Homo sapiens: one gene and its partner. The protein of the gene in region 2 purifies or fractionates together with the protein of the main gene of each other region. This does not show direct contact. Each region holds a gene or a part of one and is shown on either strand. Other genes may lie near its edges.

Region 1 (8,622 bases), on a different chromosome or scaffold from region 2:
ACTTTGTATAATAAACTGTGAAATATGCGAAAATATTTGAGTGGGAGGCGTTGCAATTTAGTTTTCTGTTTTAAAACTTAATTCTTAAAGAGTAGTTATATGAAAGTATGTTATGAAATGAGTTGTACTTTGTTCAATTCAAGAAGTTTTAATTCCTATTTGCGTACCTAGCACATAATTTTTTTCTTGTAATGTGGGCGTGTTGGTGAAGTGGAGAGATGGTTGTCCTAGCATGTGGTTGCTGTGTGTACCTTCCCTTTTAAATATCTCAATGGCCTTTTTAAAAGGTGTTTCTTGCTTGAGTCCTTAATTGGCAGTGACTCCTGTAGAATCATTGTTTATAATTACCCTTAAAAATCTACTAATAGAAGGAATGTAAGTTTGTTACTGTACAGGTATACTTCATTTTATGTAATAATTTTATTTTCTGGAAAAAAAAAAAAGCCCTTAATCCGGTTGGGAAATCGGATGTATTGGGAGAACTTGTGTCTTTAAAAATTCTTCATTAGACCTTTCTGTTAATCAAATAATCAGTGGAAATTACTGTAATCTAATTTATCTGTTGGATTGGTTCAGGTTTTTGTGTTAGATTTTCTTAAAGTGAAGCATGCCTATAATAGATCCATATACTAAAAGAAATATTGAATTGGGACATTTTTGATATGGACAGTGTGAATTTTGTCACTTTAAATGTACTAGTTGTTAAAATTGCCTTAATTTTCTGTTTTGCCCTTTTAGATTACTTCCCAGATCTTAGCAGGTTCCTAATTCCATGTCTTCTGTTAGCATAACCACATGGTGTTGAACTGTGACCTTTGCAGGACTTGGGGAATCAGTGTGAGATCTTGAGATTGACTTGAGTTATAATCTAAGACTAAGTTAACTTTAATATTCTTGCTTAAATGACATCTCTCGTTGTGTTGAATATGCTTTCTTTTTACATGGGCTCTATTTCAGTTTTGATAACGGTTTGATTTTTATTTCTACACTTAAATGAATGCTATTATATATTTTTCTTTGTTTCACAAGAGAAATAATGTTTTCCTTTTTTTCCTCCTCATCTCTGTGCGTATTGCTTCCTGTCTGCGATTTGCTTACTACTTCTTATTGCAAGATCAAGCAGGTTGGTGTGATTGATTTGCACTCCACATGGTACAATTATTTATCCTATAAAGAACTATGTTATTTAAATACATTAAATTTTTAAAATTTAGTAGTTTTTTTACCAGGTAAGTATCTATCTTTTGTATTTTTAACAATCTTTCAACTTTAGCTTTTAAAAAGAACTTCATTTTTTTCCCTAAATTCTTAAAGACTCATTAAGCCAAAGTTTGGAAATACAAGTGTAAATTATTTCACATTCAAACATTTTTCTCCTTTTTTCTTAAAGCCAAGAATCAAATACCTGGTTATGCCGTGGTTGCTTATGTAATAAAAATGAAATTAATTCAATTAGGACTGCCCTGAAGTTCTTCCCCTTTGACTTACCCTGGCCGGTTAACGTTCACAATATTGGTTAGAGCACATGGCAAAGGGCAATAAAAAAATGTTGCTACTTATGTCTGGTTTAGTTAAATACTGTTTATGGCATTAACTTTTAAAAATATTTATTTACCTGAAATTTTGTGCTGAATTTTATCATGCATTGTTAGAAATAGATTTCTTTTTTGTTTGATTGGTTTAAGAAGGTTTTTTTAAAAAAAAGTCCTTTGAAAAATACATATAAAAGTGACTTTTACTGATGTCACATTTTTAAATACCTGGTTAGGAGAGTTAGCACATATTCACATTTAGCTTAAAATATTATTTGTGGAGAAATATAATGATTTGTCAGAGTGATTCTGGCTAAAGTAATATGTTACTTAAATATTAGGCTTTTGAAACTAACCCTGGCTATATATCTTTGATTGTCTTCATGAAAGTGTTACAAGACCACAATAAGATTTTTGCTGCTAAAGTATCAGTTTGGAAACATACCTGAATGGTTTTAAATTACTAATGTAATGCATTAATGCATGAACAGTTATGTGTCTTTGTATTTCCACATGTAAAATCTTTTTATTTAAAAAACTTTTTATTTTACTGCTTCTTAATGGGTTTTGAAACTGTTTTTAACTATTGAAACAATTAGAACCCTTGAAGCCTGTACATACTACTGTTCATATGTTGATTAGATCATTTCCTCTATACTGTTAGCATCAGTGTCTTCATGCATTTATTATTTTTGTCTTAACATATGTCCCATTTTGTCTTTAAATATTTATAATTCTCAGGTGGAAAGGAAGTTACACTTTTTTAAATGCGTATACTTACTATATACCTGAACTGATACTTTTCTCCTTCAAATTTCTAAGACATAGTATGACTGATGGGATAAGTAGTTTGGGAATAGTAGTTAAATTATTTTAAAGTTATTTTTTAACAGCTAATTCAAAAGATTCAATACAGATGACTGTGCCAAACAAGCCAGTAAATAGAATCAGTCTACATCCTGACTTTTGGAATGCAATGAATCACACCACACCAAAGCATGAATTTGGATCAGTGCTTTTATTTACTCTTTTATTTCATTTGTCTTGTGTCTTAGGTTTGCTCTGGACTTACAGTTCTATACAAATAATGTATTTTAAACCCTAGAGTTTTTTACATAATTTTGTCATAAAGAGTTAAAGCCTATTAATGATTCTTCATTTCATAGTTCCTGAAAAAATATACTCAGTTATATATCTCCATCATAATTATTTTTCAGTTCTTTTTCCTTGTTAGGTGGTGGGGGTTAGCTTTTGGGTGGAGACATTAACAATTTATACACTCTTATGATTTACACTCTTCTTCTGTAGTTCTTTGGGAAGGAAGTTAAGAATGACGGAAAGGTTCTAGGAGAGCCTCAGACCAATTCTGTGAAAAGTGTTATTGGTTTTCTGAAGGAATGTATGTTTCTAAGAAACTGTATGACCAGAAATGAATTGTCTTTGATTCAGTTTCATCACCAGTTTAATAAGCTAGTTTTATTTTCTCTTTTTCATTTGGATTTTGTTATTTTGAAATTCATTAATAAACTTTCTTTGAGCACCTATTACATGTATGTAAAATACTTTATTAGACATTATTAGCAAAAATAATCAATTGGAAGCCATATTCCAGCTTTATTATTTGGTAGTATTTCTACTTATATTTGACACTTGGCATGTTTACTCTGACTTAGGGAGCCTTCGGGTCCTGAGTTTGACATAATAACAAGCTATTTTAGTTGTTCCTTTAGTGTATGATGATATATCTTGACAGCTCAGCAACTGTGAAATGCTTGGTTAATTACTGTGTATGTAACTGTTACATAATTACATAGTATAGAATTTTTTCCTTTAAAAGTATGCTGTGAAATAAAATACTTTAATGTTATTAAACAAAAATTTTAGAAAAACTCTGAAAAATATATTAAAACTACTTGATGTAAATTCTGCCTGATATTTTCATCTGTGCATTTTATACCTATATATGACTTTTATTCACTTGTTTTATGTGAACTTGGGGAAGATATTTTAAGGAGTCGCTTGATTTTATACTTGGTTATCAGGAAAAAGTAACTGAAGAATCATGTTGCTTTTTTTTTAACCTATATTTGTTATCTGGGGACATATATATTTTTTAATTTGGCTTTCCTGTTAATCTTTCTTTTCCTATTATTTAGCTCATCTATTTTGCTTCTCTTTCGCTTTTGTTCTTAGTTATCATTGTACAATTGGACAACAGTTTGAATTTAGCAATGAGTTATAAAGTTCTAGGAGCATAATAAATGGAAATGCATGATATTATTGGTTTGATTTCCTTAAAATATTGATAATTGGTTTTGTATTATTGAGGAGTGTAGGCATTTCTATATTGAAGGAGGTAATTTATATAAGTCTGAAACATTGATTCATTTTAGTGATTGTTGCAATTAAATGATTCAAATAGGAAAAAAGAAAGTCTCCCCAGACAAGATGATTGAAATGCAAGCAAAAATTGATGAGGAGAGAAAAGCACTTGAAACAAAGCTCGACATGGAAGAAGAAGAAAGAAACAAGGCTAGAGCTGAATTAGAGAAACGGGAAAAAGATCTTCTTAAAGCCCAGTGAGTATTATTGAATTGAGATGAATTCATGATTTAAATTTCTGTTTTTTCCTAGGATATATAAAATAGGAAAATTGAATAGTAATTAAAAGCTTGGATTTTTGTCTCCAGTGTAGCTATTTTGGATAGAAGGGTCCATTGTATATAGTGTATTTCTAAAAACTAGATCTATTTTGGTTATTTTATTTCCGTGTGATAGGAAAACATATCAATGAATTAGAATGAGTTATAAATTAAGTTAGAAATCGATACTACACAGTGGTGTAATTTGGCAGAGATGTTACATAATTATATTTCTATTTTGAAATTGTATATCCAAATTTTAAATTTTGGGAAATGATATTAGTAGAATAATAGATCATCAGTGAATATAGAGTATTCTCATTCTAATCAACAGACAAGAGCATCAGTCTTTGCTGGAAAAATTATCTGCCCTGGAAAAGAAGGTAATTGTTGGTGGGGTTGACTTGTTGGCCAAAGCTGAGGAACAAGAGAAACTTCTTGAAGAATCTAACATGGAACTGGAAGAAAGGAGGAAAAGAGCAGAGCAACTTCGCAGAGAACTTGAGGAAAAAGAGGTAATGTGACTTTCTGTTTTTAGTTTGGTATTTTGCCAGAGAGATTTAACTTTTCTAGTGGAAAGCTAAATATCTATAATCGTATTGAAATTTTAAAGCATATTTATGGATTGCTTTGAAGATCAGATTTGCTAAACATTTATGTCATTTGTTAAAGAATTAGATATTTGATTTTACAAAGAAATTTATTCTGAAGTTTACTAATTTTTGTCATAGCAAGAACGCTTGGATATTGAAGAAAAATATACCAGTTTGCAAGAGGAAGCACAGGGAAAGACCAAGAAGTTAAAGAAAGTTTGGACTATGCTGATGGCTGCAAAGTCAGAGGTTGGTTCTCTTAGAAATTACCTACTAATGCAGTTCTGGATTTTTTAAAAGGGAGTTCTTTGATTAAGAATTTATAAATAATCATAATGTGAGCTTATAATTTAAAAGAAATAAAATATTTCTTTATGTGCAATTTTTAATTTTATCTATTAGTCTAAATTGTTTCTTTTCAACCTTAACAAATAGTGTAGAATAGATGCTGATAGTGTCACGCTGTTTATCATTTTTATAAAAGAACTAGGTAAGCTCTCACAAGGTTTCTTAGACAAGCATCCTATGTGAGATGGTGCTGTTTTGTAGTTAAAGTCTTGTTTGTTCATAATATTTTTATGGATTTTCTGGTAGATGGCTGATCTCCAACAAGAACATCAGAGGGAAATTGAAGGCCTACTGGAGAACATTCGGCAACTTAGCCGGGAGCTTCGACTTCAGATGCTTATTATTGATAACTTTATACCTCGGGATTATCAGGTAAAAAGGAAGTTCTCTGACCGAGATAGTCGCTTGACTGGGATTAAGGAACAAAGATTTCTAATTTAACTGATGATAAATACTTAATACTTCAGTTATTGAATGTACAATTTTTTGAACAAATGCCATCACATTTCACTTTAGTTGTTAACTTTTAATACATAATCTCTGTTTGAGTATCTAGCCTTTTAGACGAACTCAGATTCATGTATATGTGATCAGAATCAAGGTGTAGGTCCCATTCCTTCATTCAGCGCCCATTATCATACAAGTAGAATAAATGGAACCTCTGTGCTGCCTTTTTCTCCCTGCTGTGGGTGCTGATTCTTTGTGTGTGTGTGTGTATATGGTAAAATATAGATAACATGAAATTTACCATCTTAGCTATTTTAAGTGTGCAGTTCAATGGCATTTAGGACATTCACATTGTTGTGCAACCTGTACCATCATTCATCTCCAGATGGATGCTAATTCTTAGTACTAGTATAATTTTAAAATCTCAGCCTCTATTTTTTTTAATCCAAAATTTGTCTTTCCAGTGCATTTTGGTAAACTTTAACATGATTTTTTTTTTTTTTTTTTTTGTCAGGGAGACAGAGTCACTTTGTTGCCCAGGCTGGAGTGCAGTGGTGCAATCTCGGCTCCCTGCAACCTTCACTTCCCGGGTTCAAGTGATTCTCATGCCTCTGCCTCCCGAGTAGCTGGGATTACAGGCGTGTACCACCACACCCAGCTAATTTTTGTATATTTAGTAGAGATGGGGTTTAGCCATGTTGGCCAGGCTGGTCTTGAGTTCCTGAGCTCAGGTTGATCTGCCCGTTTTGGCCTCCCAAAATGATGGGATTACAGGTGTTAACCACCATGCCTGGCCAATTTTTTAAAAATCTGTTTTGAATCTCAATACAGTTTTAAGAAATTTGTCTGAAAATAAGTCTTAGTCATTTTTTTTTTTTTTGGACCTCAGGTACATGGAATTAGTCCTGGGTTCATGGTACATTCTCCTTATTGGTCCTTGGATGGCCTGCTTTTATTTAGTTATTTTGTAATGAACTCATCACCCAAAACAATATCTAGGACCCTGATAATAACTACTTCTAACCAGTTTCCCCTTCCCTTATTTCATTCCTTTGCCTCTTCCAACCCAAGGTAATCATTATCTTGATTCCCAAGTTTCTCATTCTGTTGTTTTTTCATTTTCATTTAGTTTTATTTCATCTGCATGCATTCCTAAGAAATATGTATTTTAGAATTTATAAAAAGGTTATATCAGTATATAATGTTTTGAGACTTTTATTACTCAATGTTATTAAGATTTTAGTTTTATGACTTCAATATTTTAGATGTTATTAAATATTAAAAATAGGCTATCTTTCACCCTTTTAAAAGGAAATGATTGAAAACTATGTCCATTGGAATGAAGACATAGGAGAATGGCAGCTAGTGAGTATTACCTTCATTCTTTCACGTAATAATTAAAGAGTACTTCCTATGGTCTAGAAATTGTGCTGGCTACAGTGGGGAGGAACATGGTCCAGTAGATGAATCAGATGAGAATCCAGTAGGGCAGATAAAATATTTTTCTAATTCCATGTAATTAATTGTAACATACAGATCATGGTCTGGGTGGAAATGGTCAGAGTTAGGGGCTATGTGGGACTAAGTGACCTCTGGGGCCCTTTCTGCTCTAGCATTCAAATCATGTTTTACTAGTGTAATGTTAGGATTTCTCAGTTATTTGCCTAACTCACAGTATTGATTACTAATTAAGACATTTCTCTGTCTCTCCCTTTTCTTTTTTTGAGAAATGTGTTGCTTATACAGGAAATAACATGAGGAAGCAAACCCCAGTACCTGATAAAAAGGAGAAAGATGTAAGAGTACTTAAAAAAAAACAAAACAAAACACAAAACTACTGTTGTTTCTTTATAGGAATATGAGTCATTAAATTGTATTATCAACTTGATATCTGTTAATCAGCTCTGCTGAAAAATGGGCTGATACTTTTGGGAATAAAGGCTCTAGGATGGGGTGATGAGGAGGACAGTTCTGCTTACCATCAGTCTTGATGTCAGGCTTATTCCCACCACAAGAGGGGCATGGACTCACTCTTTGGAGTCCTCTTTTCACTACCACTCTGGGTCGTAGGATTATGGGTGGAGACTAGAATGTGTCTTTCTTTCTCTTCAAAGCTAGTTCTAGTCCTAGGTCAAGAAGAAGAGGGAGCGGGCCGGGCGTGGTGGCTCACGCCTGTAATCCCAGCACTTTGGGAGGCCGAGGCGGGTGGATCACGAGGTCAGGAGATCAAGACCATCCTGGCTAACACAGTGAAACCCCGTCTCTACTAAAAAAATACAAAAAAAATTAGCCGGGCGTGGTGGCGGGTGCCTGTAGTCCCAGCTACTCAGGAGGCTGAGGCAGGAGAATGGCGTGAACCCAGGAGGTGGAGCTTGCAGTGAGCCCAGATCGCGCTACTGCACTCCAGCCTGGGCGACAGAGTGAGACTCCGTCTCAAAAAAAAAAAAAAAAGAAGAAGAAGAGGGGGCAGCTTTAAGAAAAACAGCAACAGTTTTTATGTCCAAGGAAATTTATAGTGTGTCAGGGCTTCTTACTCACCAACCTTTATTAAGTACATTTTAGATACTGGGATTAGAAGATGATGTCATTAGACATTTCTTTGGTTTTAGCTTCTGTGGGTTTGATCAAGGAGTTTATTCAGTATTTTAAATCTTCCCCCAAATCTGGCTTTAACTCTTTGCCTTAAGAGTGCTTTGTGTTTGTTTCTTTTACTTAGCCCTTTGAGGTGGACCTTTCTCACGTGTATCTTGCCTATACTGAGGAGAGTCTGCGTCAGTCTTTGATGAAACTAGAAAGACCACGAACTTCAAAGGGGAAAGCAAGGCCAAAGACAGGGAGAAGGTAAGGACTGTCCTTGAATCTGGTAAAACGAAGGCATTGAGGTATTCTAATTAGATACATGTACAGGAAGTTAAAATTTATTTAGTTAAAACATGATACATATTTTGGCTGATTTATTAAAAATCAAATTCCTGGCTGGGCACAGTGGCTCACGCCTGTAATCCCAGCATTTTGGGAGGCCGAGGCAGGTGGATCATTTGAGGTCAGGAGTTTGAGACC
Region 2 (9,092 bases):
GCCAGTAACCTAAGTCATAATTATTCACCTAAATAAAATGTGAGTGTTGGTAGTTAAAAAAAAATAAGCAGAGAAAATCCTGTCACATGCTACAACATGGATAAGACTTGAAGACATTATGTAAAGTAAAATAAGTAAGTAAATAAGTAAAATAAGCCAGTCACAAAAGGACAAATATGTCCTTGTATGATTCCTCTAATATGAGGTACCTAGAGTAGTCAAATTCACAGGGAAGGAAAGTACAATGGTGGTTGCCAGGAGTGGGAGGGGGAAATGGAGAGTTATTATTTAAGGTACAGAGTTTCAATTTGGGAAGAGAAAACAGTTCTGGAGATAGATGGTAGTAATGGTTGCATAGTAATATGAATATAGTAATGCCAATGAATTGTACACTTAAAGATGACTAAAATGTAAATTTTGTTATGTATATTATATCACAGTTTTTTAAAAACAAAATAAAAACTCTAAAATCTAGACTTATCATCTTATTGCTTAAATCAAAGAAATCACGGAGATCCACCTTGCTTGTATTCTTTGAAAGAAATCAGTCATTCCTTTCTGAATCCTTCTGGGCATAAGCCACAGGAAAACAAATTCTATACTTTTCTCTCATTTTATTTTCAAATCCTGGATCTACTACGCTGTCATTACAGAAGTCTATGATGTTTGTTTCCTTCAGAGTAATGGTCCTTAATCATTCTGGGGTTATAGACGCTTTTGAAGAATCTGATAAAAGCCACTGACCACAATTCTTTATCTGAGGATAATGAAGCTGCTTCATCTAGTTCATATATTAGGCTCTCGAAGATTTATATTTTGAGAGGAACAAAGAACCAAATATGACTGAATTATAGGCAGAAGTGGGAACTCAAAGCTTGCATGCAAGTCAGGCAGAGAGGTGGAAGCTTCAGCCCACCTGCTTTGGAAAAACTCCATCCCACTTCCCTGGGTCTCAGTGCAATATGTGCCCTCAGCAAGCCCAGGCTGAATCTATCTGCCCACCTGGACAGAACCAGGAGCCAGCAGCACTACCCACCTGGCTTACCTCATACTCGGAATGGCGTGGTAGCCCAATCGGAAGCGGAGTTTGCTGGACCCAGCAAAATCTACAATCACCTTTTCCCCCACAGTGTGCATATGCTTAAGGAGTTCAAGGTGTTCCCTGGCCACAGCCTTCAGACTGGAAATGGAGGTCCACGGTAAGACCAGCCAATGGTAACGGGCCTTTGGGTATTTATCCTTTATCACCACCACCTGCTCATCTTTGTAAACCTAGCAGAGGGATACAAGAGAAGGAAACAGACATCTACTAAGAATCTTCTGTGTGCCTGGTTGTTATATTCACTAAGTCACTTAATTCCCACAGTCTTGTGCAAATGGTTTTAATAGCCCAGTTTTGAGAGAGGAGAGCACTGAAATTCAGACAGGTTGAGTGTCTTGCACAAGTCATAGTTCCTAAGAGGGAAATCTAGGATTCCAACTCAGATGTGGTTGACTCCAGAGTCTGTTTTCAACCACCACACTACACAGAATACACAGAAGATGCACAGTACAAAATAGTTCCCAAGAATGTGATGTAAAATCTCTGTAGACATAAATTCAAAAGCATCCTTCTCCACTCCAACATGGCAGACTGTGTGACACGTACACGTGGGTTCCAGTGAGCCCTATTAGACCTGCCCCTTGTCAACAAGGAATATAATTGAAGTGGGACTCAAAGGCTCCTCAAGGATGATGCCTGTTTTTTTTTTTTTTTTTTTTTTTTTGAGATGGAGTTTCGCTCTTGTTGCCCAGGCTGGAGTACAATGGTGCAATCTCAGCTCACCGCAACCTCCACCTCCCGGATTCAAGTGATTCTCCTGCCTCAGCCTCTCGAGTAGCTGAGATTACAGGCATGCACCACCATGCCCAGCTAATTTTTTGTATTTTTAGTAGAGACAGGGTTTCTCCATGTTGGTCAGGCTGATCTCGAACTCCTGACCTCAGGTGATCCTCCCGTCTCGGCCTCCCAAAGTGCTGGGATTACAGGGATGTCTGACTGTTAATGCCAGGGCAGCACAGTACTACTGTCACAGTGTATTATCTCTGATGCTCCCCTGAAAGGAACCATACTAAGGTTAATGCAACTTCCCTTAAAGTACCCAGAAGTTTAAAAGGCACAAGGCAGAGGGGATATTCATTTGAAGAACTCAGCTTTCTCTCCAAACAATGACAGCTGCTACTTTATTGCCAATGTGAAAAGCCTCTTGTTCTCACAGAACAGCCCAATAAAATGAATCTCATTCAGAAAGACTGATATCCTTTGATTTCATTTGTAATTAAGACCTCTGTGGAGTGGTCATTTACAACATGAAATGTACTGAAATTCCAAAATTGTATTCTGACCTGCATTTTGGGGTCCTGCATAGAAATCTTCAAGCCTTGACTCCAGTGGCCCAGGGATTCCTAAAAAAAAAACAAAAAAAAAAACAAAAAAAAAAAAAAACAAGCAATGTAAATTACAAATGCCAATAATTAAATTTGGCAACAGTTAATACTGTGTGATAGCACAACTAAACTTGGAAATAAGCTTAGTTTTTGAGAATTAAACAAGATTCACTTGACTCTGCTTCACTCCATTGCCTTCCTATATTCTCTTTTTTTTTGAGACAAAGTCTCACTCTGTCTCACCCAAGCTGGAGTGCAGCGGCGTGATCACTGCAACCTCCGAAGTGATTCTCCTGCCTCAGCCTCCCAAGTAGCTGGGATTACAGGTGCCCACCACCACGCCCAGCTAACTTTTGTATTTTTTAGTAGAGACGGAGTTTCACCAGGTTGGCCATGCTGGTCTTGAACTCCTCACCTCAGGTGATCCACTGGCCTCCACCTCCCCAAGTGCTGGGATTACAGGCGTGAGCCACCACACCCGACCCTATATTCTTTCTTTTTTTTTTTGAGATGGGGTTTCGCTCTTGTTGCCCAGGCTGGAGTACAATGGCGTGATCTCGGCTCACTGCAACCTCTGCCTCCCGGGTTCAAGCGATGCTCCTGCCCAGCCTCTGGAGTTGCTGGGATTATAGGCATGCACCACCACGCCCAGCTAATTTTGTATTTTTAGTAGAGATTAGGTTTTGCCATGTTGGTCAGGCTGGTCTCGAACTCCTGACCTCAGGTGATCTGCCCATCTCGGCCTCCCAAAGTGCTGGGATTACAGGCGTGAGCCAGCACACCCAGCTGTTTTTTATTATTGTTGTTGTTTTTTGAGATGGAGTCTCGCTCTGTCGCCCAGGCTGGAGTGCAGTGGTGCAATCTCAGCTCACTGCAACCTCCGCCTTCCAGGTTCAAGCAATCCTCCCGCCTCAGCCTCCCGAGTAGCTGGGATTACAAGCATGTGTGTACCACCAGGCCCAGCTAATTTTTGTATTTTTAGTAGACATGGAGTTTCACAATGTTTGCCAGGCAGGTCTCAAACTCCTGACCCTCAAGTGATCTGCCCACCTCGGCCTCCCAAAGCGCTGAGATTACAGGCGTGAACCACTGCACCCAGCCAGCCTTCCTATATTCACAGCTGGCTGTTCTAAATGAAGGCGAGAAATGCCAGAGTATGAGTCATACCTTCTTTGCCCTCTCTCACTGCAGCTACAGCCTGACCAATTCTCCACTTTGACATCAGCATATGAATTACATGATCTATGAAAACCTTCTATAGATGCATAAACAACTGATCCACTTTAGTTGTTCAATGTTAAGTACACACTGCCATTATTGTTGTACCTTCAGGTGGCTTACCTCAGGAATTTAAGAAAAAAGCACATAAAGGAACATTCATCCAAATGATTTTCACGCCACAAACAAGTGACTCTTTCATCATGGTTAATAACCCCTCACGCATTTCTGAACTTTAAAGTGTACAAAACAATTAAGCAGTCATTATATTTCATTTCTTCTCCACATCATCTACCAATCACACTACCCTCACCTTTTTGATAGGTGCATCTTTTCCCTTCTTTAGGGGCACAGAGCATTGGCCAGAGTTGCTCCCAGGTTCCAGCCCTGTCCCAGCCTCAGCTTCCTGAGCAGCATCCCTTTCTATAGAATCACTGTTGCCTGATCTCTTTCTCTTCCTGTGTGTTTCCAGGCCAGGGTTCTTTGCCTCTTCCTCAAACTCTACAATATATGGATAAAGTTCATTCACCATGTGGAGAACCTGGCCAGGCTGCAGCTTCACCTCTTGGTCCTTCCCAATTACGACTGAGTCAATGCTGGTGGGATTGACTCCTACCTATGGAATAAACAATCAGAAAATAATTATAATAATAGCAACAGCACCTACAGTAAGATAGCCACTGCTATGTTAACCACTTACTATATGCCAAGCACCTTGCCTTATGTTCACCTATATTACTCCATCACTTCCATACATGACAGAGAAGCCTTCACTGGCTGGCACAGACACTCTAAAGTCAACAGCATAAGAAAATCATCGAGTATAAAATTCCAAGTTATAAATACACCTACCTGCTTTACCTTGACATATCCCTTGTTACACTCTGCTTTCAACTGTACTGAAAGAGATTGGAAAAAGTTAAACACAAATGCAACAAAGAACCAGGCACTTGCTCCTATCTTCCCTAAAGAAAACAAGCTTCACTACAGGCGGCAGCTGAACAGGTGGTGTTTCCTTAAAGGCCTATTAGCAATCACCTGTTATTGCAGGTGGCTGGAGCTCCAAATCCTACCAATTTCTAAAGGTTTAAATCCTTCCATAAAATGTCCAACAGCGTACATACTCCCTTAGCTATTGCCAAGATCCCTATGAGGCAGCTTCAATTAATCCCCACAAGTTTCCCTATTCCAGAACCCCTGGCCTGCTCATGATCACAGACTCTGCCGCCAGAAAAGAAGACCTGTTTCTCCCAGCCTGGGCAGCATGGCAATACCCCGTCTCTACAAAAAAATACAAAAATTAGCCAGGTGTGGTGGCACATGCCTGTAGTCCCAGCTACTTGGGAGACTGAGGTGGGAGAATCACTTGAGCCCCAGGAGGTGGAGGTTGCAGTGAGTCAAGATCGCACCACTACACTCCAGCCTGGGCAACAGAGTGAGACCCTATCTCAGGAGGAAAAAAAAAAAAAAAAAAAAAAAAAAAGATCCATTTCTCACACGAACTCTTGACCAAGGATTAAATCAGGCTTCCACTATTATTTTGGAAAAACAACAACTATTAGATGCTTTAAAAGATAAAACAGTAAAAGACACATTCCTGGAAAACAGAAACTCAGGTGGCTTTGGGTAGAAGGAGTGGAAAGAATGTTCTAGAAAGATGATTGCAGAGACAGAACAATCTGAGCATGTGTGAGAAGTGGTAACATTAAGCATTCCTGTTCTGATAAATGAACAAGGTATCTGGAGTTGAGACAGGGAGGAAAGAAGAACCACCATAGCTGCTCCCCAGAGAGGACAGGGTGCCACATACATGCCCCTTCAGTTGCTGTTGTGAGGAAGGGAACAGAGAGAGAAGCAGCCACTGCTTCTGCATCTTGGGCCTACTCAGCTCAAGCATGGCTTTGTATCCCTCCACTTAGATTAACTCATATAGGAAAGATCATAATCAGTGCTGCAGATGCCAACTCTCTAAGTTCAGAACCCTTGGGAAACCTTGCTGTGGGGGGGTCACACTCCAGCCAGCAGTGTGCATGTTTACAGGAAAAAACAAGGTACATGGTAAGGATTTTTTTCTGAGGGCAAGGACTTTCATGTTATTAAACCCTAAGACAAGTGCTAGATGCCACTGTCTCATAATACTTTGCGTGAAGCAATATGTAAAGGACGGCACTACCCCATTACTTCTCAGAAAGACATGGTTTCACCTGTAGACTCCAGAGTTTACATCTTGCTGCCCATTGAGCAATGTCCCTGGGGAAAGGAGGGCAGGACTCAATTCCACCATCCCATGGTAACAGTATGAACTTGACTGCTCCCAACCTTCACCCACCCTGCCTTGAACATTATCACATTGGGAGGGCAGAATCAGGAATAAATAGGGCCCTGGTGTTGGCTAAAAGAGCTCAGTTCCTGAGCTGTATTTTTGGCAGACAATAGATTTTCCATCAAGATCACCCAGAAAATATGCATCTTTGGTTATCACTATCCCACATAACCATAGTAATCTCCACATTTCTATGACCAGTTACCTTGCTGTCGAGAACATTTCTTATCAGTGATCTTGGTCTCTGGGCCACGCCCAATCACAACTGCTTCCAAATGTGGAAGTCTGATTCGCTGGTGCCGGCTGTCCTGTCTCACCAACCAGCACACCCGCATCATCACTCTAAGGGACAAAACAAAAGAATCACTAGAAAAACAGATCCACTAGCACGAGTCCTCCAGGGCCACACCCGGTGCCACCACGCATGTGATCTACCAGCTGTTCATCTTGAGGCAAGTGACTTCACCACCCTAGTCTCAATTTCCTCACCTATAAACCATGATAATGATGGGACTCAGGAGGCTGTTGTGAAAATTAAATGAGATAATGTGAGTAAGTATTTACCTCCCTGCCTGAATCATGCTAGGCAATCAAATATTTATTACACATTTATTTATTTATTTATTTTATTTATTTTGAGACAGAGTCTCGCTGTGTCCCCCAGGCTGGCACGCAGTGGCACAATCTCGGCTCACGGCAACCTCCACCTTCCGGGTTCAAGCAATTCTCCTGCCTTAGCCTCCTGAGTAGCTGGGATTACAGGCACCCGCCACCACACCTGGCTAATTTTTGTATTTTTAGTGGAGACAGGGTTTCACCATGTTGGCCAGGCTGGTCTCAAACTTCTGACCTCAGGTGATCCACCCGCCTCTGCCTCCCAAAGTGCTGGGATTACAAGCATAAGCCATCACACCTGGCCTGTTACACATGTATTGATATGTGCTGGACATTAGGCTACATATTGAAAGTCAAAGGATGAATAAAACAGGGACATTGTCCCTGTCCTTGAGGAGCCTGGAGTGCAGTAGGACAGACAGAATCATATACCAATATATACAATATAATGTGATAAACACTACAAGAAGAGAGTAACCAAATATGGCATTAGCCCAGTAAAAGGACTGACTGACTCTTGTGGAGAATATTTTAAAAGGCTTCACGAGGAAGGGATATTAATGTGCGGTTTTAAAGGATGAGAAGGAGTTTGCCTGCCAGAGAACTAAGGACATAAAAAAGATGTTCTCTAGTGCTTAGGTGTCTTTATGTGTCATAGGTTTTCCTTCCCTGTCATGACATACTGATGTTAGAACAATATATTTCACTCCCATCTGCCAGGAGACAGTCATAATAAATATGCAAATCTACAATTTCTTTACTTTTTTTTTTTTCTGAGACGGAGCTTCACTCTTGTTGCCCAGGCTGGAGTGCAATGGCACAATCTTGGCTCACTGCAACCTCTGCCTCCTGGGTTCAAGCGATTCTCCTGCCTCAGCCTCCCGAGTAGCTGGGATTATGGGCATGTGTCACCACAGTCAGCTAATTTTATATTTTTAGTAGAGACTAGGTTTCTCCATGTTGGTCAGTCTGGTCTCGACCTCCTGGCCTCAGGTGATCCGCCTGCCTCGGCCTCCCAAAGTGCTGGGATTACAGGCATGAGCCACCGTGCCCGGCCGCAAACCTACAATTTCTAAAGTGTGAATGTGACAATTTTGTGCAATACGCAACGCGCAAAACAATGGAAGTGCTGATATTCTTTTGAAAAACAACCCTTATGGCCATGTGGACTATCAGTAAAAGAGAAAGAGACAAGAAATTCAGAAGAGAGATGAGACCTCAACAATGGCCGAAGCAAAGGGGATGGAGAGCAAGAAGAGCCAGGAGAAATCTGGAAGACATACTTAATTACTGATGACATTTGGGGAATGACAAAGGAATAAAAGGACACACTGGCCAGGTGCGGTGTCTCAGGCCTGTAATCCCAGCACTTTGGGAGCCCAAGGCAGGCGGATCACGAGGTCAGGAGTTTGTGACCAGCCTAGCCAACGTGGTAAAACCCTATCTCTACTAAAAATACAAAAATTAGCCAGGTGTGGTGGCAGGTGCCTCCCACCTACTCGGGAGGCTGAGGCAGGAAAATTGCTTGAACCCAGGAGGCGGAGGTTGCAGTGAGCAGAGATCGCACCATTGTATTCCAGCCTGGGCGATAGGGCAAGGCTCCATCTCAAGAAAAAAAAAAAAAGGCGAGACACTCACCAAAGACTTCAAATTTGGAAGATGCCCATTAACAAAAATGAAAAATACACAAGGAGACATAATTTGGGGATAAAAAGGAAAGTGAAGAGAGAAGGACCAATTTCATATTGAAATGTAATTATTTTAAGTTGCCTGTGGAAGATCCAAGACTCAAGCTGTGATATGTGGGTATGAAGCTCAAGAGAGGGGAATGGACTAAATGCATATATTTGAGAGGCATCAACATGTCACAGAGGCTGAGGCAAAGAGAGAGAGGATGAGATCACCCAATGAGGTGAAACAGGGAATTATGGGCAGAGAGAGATTGCCTCTCTAGACTCCAGACTCTTATCAGTGCTCAAGCCTCTAACATGCCTCTCCCGGAAACCTGCCTATAGTCAAGGCAGCACATATGCCCTCTGCACAAGTTTCATGTCCATAAGCAAAGAAAAAAGAAACCCGATTTTTAAAAATCAGTTTCATTACCATCTGCAAAGACAAGACAATGCAAGGCAAAGTGAGCAAATGACAGCTGAGGAGATGCAAATTCAAATGAATAAGATTAGTGCGAGTATATGAGTACTAAGGAGGTAAAAAGTCCTGTATTAGCCAGTACAGGCTTCCAGAAACCTCCTGGTTAGAGATGGCTAGGAGCCAAGGGGACTGATAAAGAAGAAATGGAGTGGGAGGGGCCATTCCATTTTAAAAAGCACAAGTGACAACACAGATTTCGGCAATGGCAAGCCATAGGTCGGGGTAAAAGCAGACTTAGTTGGCTGAACCAGAGGAGCTGCCTCGGAGAGTCACAAAAAAAGACAGAGGTGTTGAAAGAATACTAGGCTGAAAAGTTTACATTTACCATAATCAAGAGGAGACAACTGCCAGGTTTTGA

Evidence for each region. The genes of interacting proteins can lie anywhere in the genome.
Region 1: the proteins of APTX (region 2) and KIF3A purify together in Homo sapiens (affinity purification with mass spectrometry; 2 studies listed by BioGRID and IntAct, with this or other methods). This does not show direct contact.

The regions. Positions count from the first base shown.
Region 1 is NC_000005.10:132,698,952-132,707,573, reverse strand, and holds part of KIF3A (kinesin-like protein KIF3A), read left to right. Parts: intron 1-1,114; coding exon 1,115-1,123; intron 1,124-3,954; coding exon 3,955-4,111; intron 4,112-4,508; coding exon 4,509-4,689; intron 4,690-4,905; coding exon 4,906-5,016; intron 5,017-5,361; coding exon 5,362-5,487; intron 5,488-6,873; coding exon 6,874-6,927; intron 6,928-7,289; coding exon 7,290-7,358; intron 7,359-8,278; coding exon 8,279-8,403; intron 8,404-8,622. UniProt on the Homo sapiens protein: Microtubule-based anterograde translocator for membranous organelles. Plus end-directed microtubule sliding activity in vitro. Plays a role in primary cilia formation. Plays a role in centriole cohesion and subdistal appendage organization and function.
Region 2 is NC_000009.12:32,983,586-32,992,677, forward strand, and holds part of APTX (aprataxin), read right to left. Parts: intron 6,335-9,092; exon of another isoform or gene 6,311-6,334; 5' UTR 6,307-6,310; coding exon 6,174-6,306; intron 4,545-6,173; coding exon 4,498-4,544; intron 4,262-4,497; coding exon 3,959-4,261; intron 2,446-3,958; coding exon 2,386-2,445; intron 1,273-2,385; coding exon 1,046-1,272; intron 1-1,045. UniProt on the Homo sapiens protein: DNA-binding protein involved in single-strand DNA break repair, double-strand DNA break repair and base excision repair.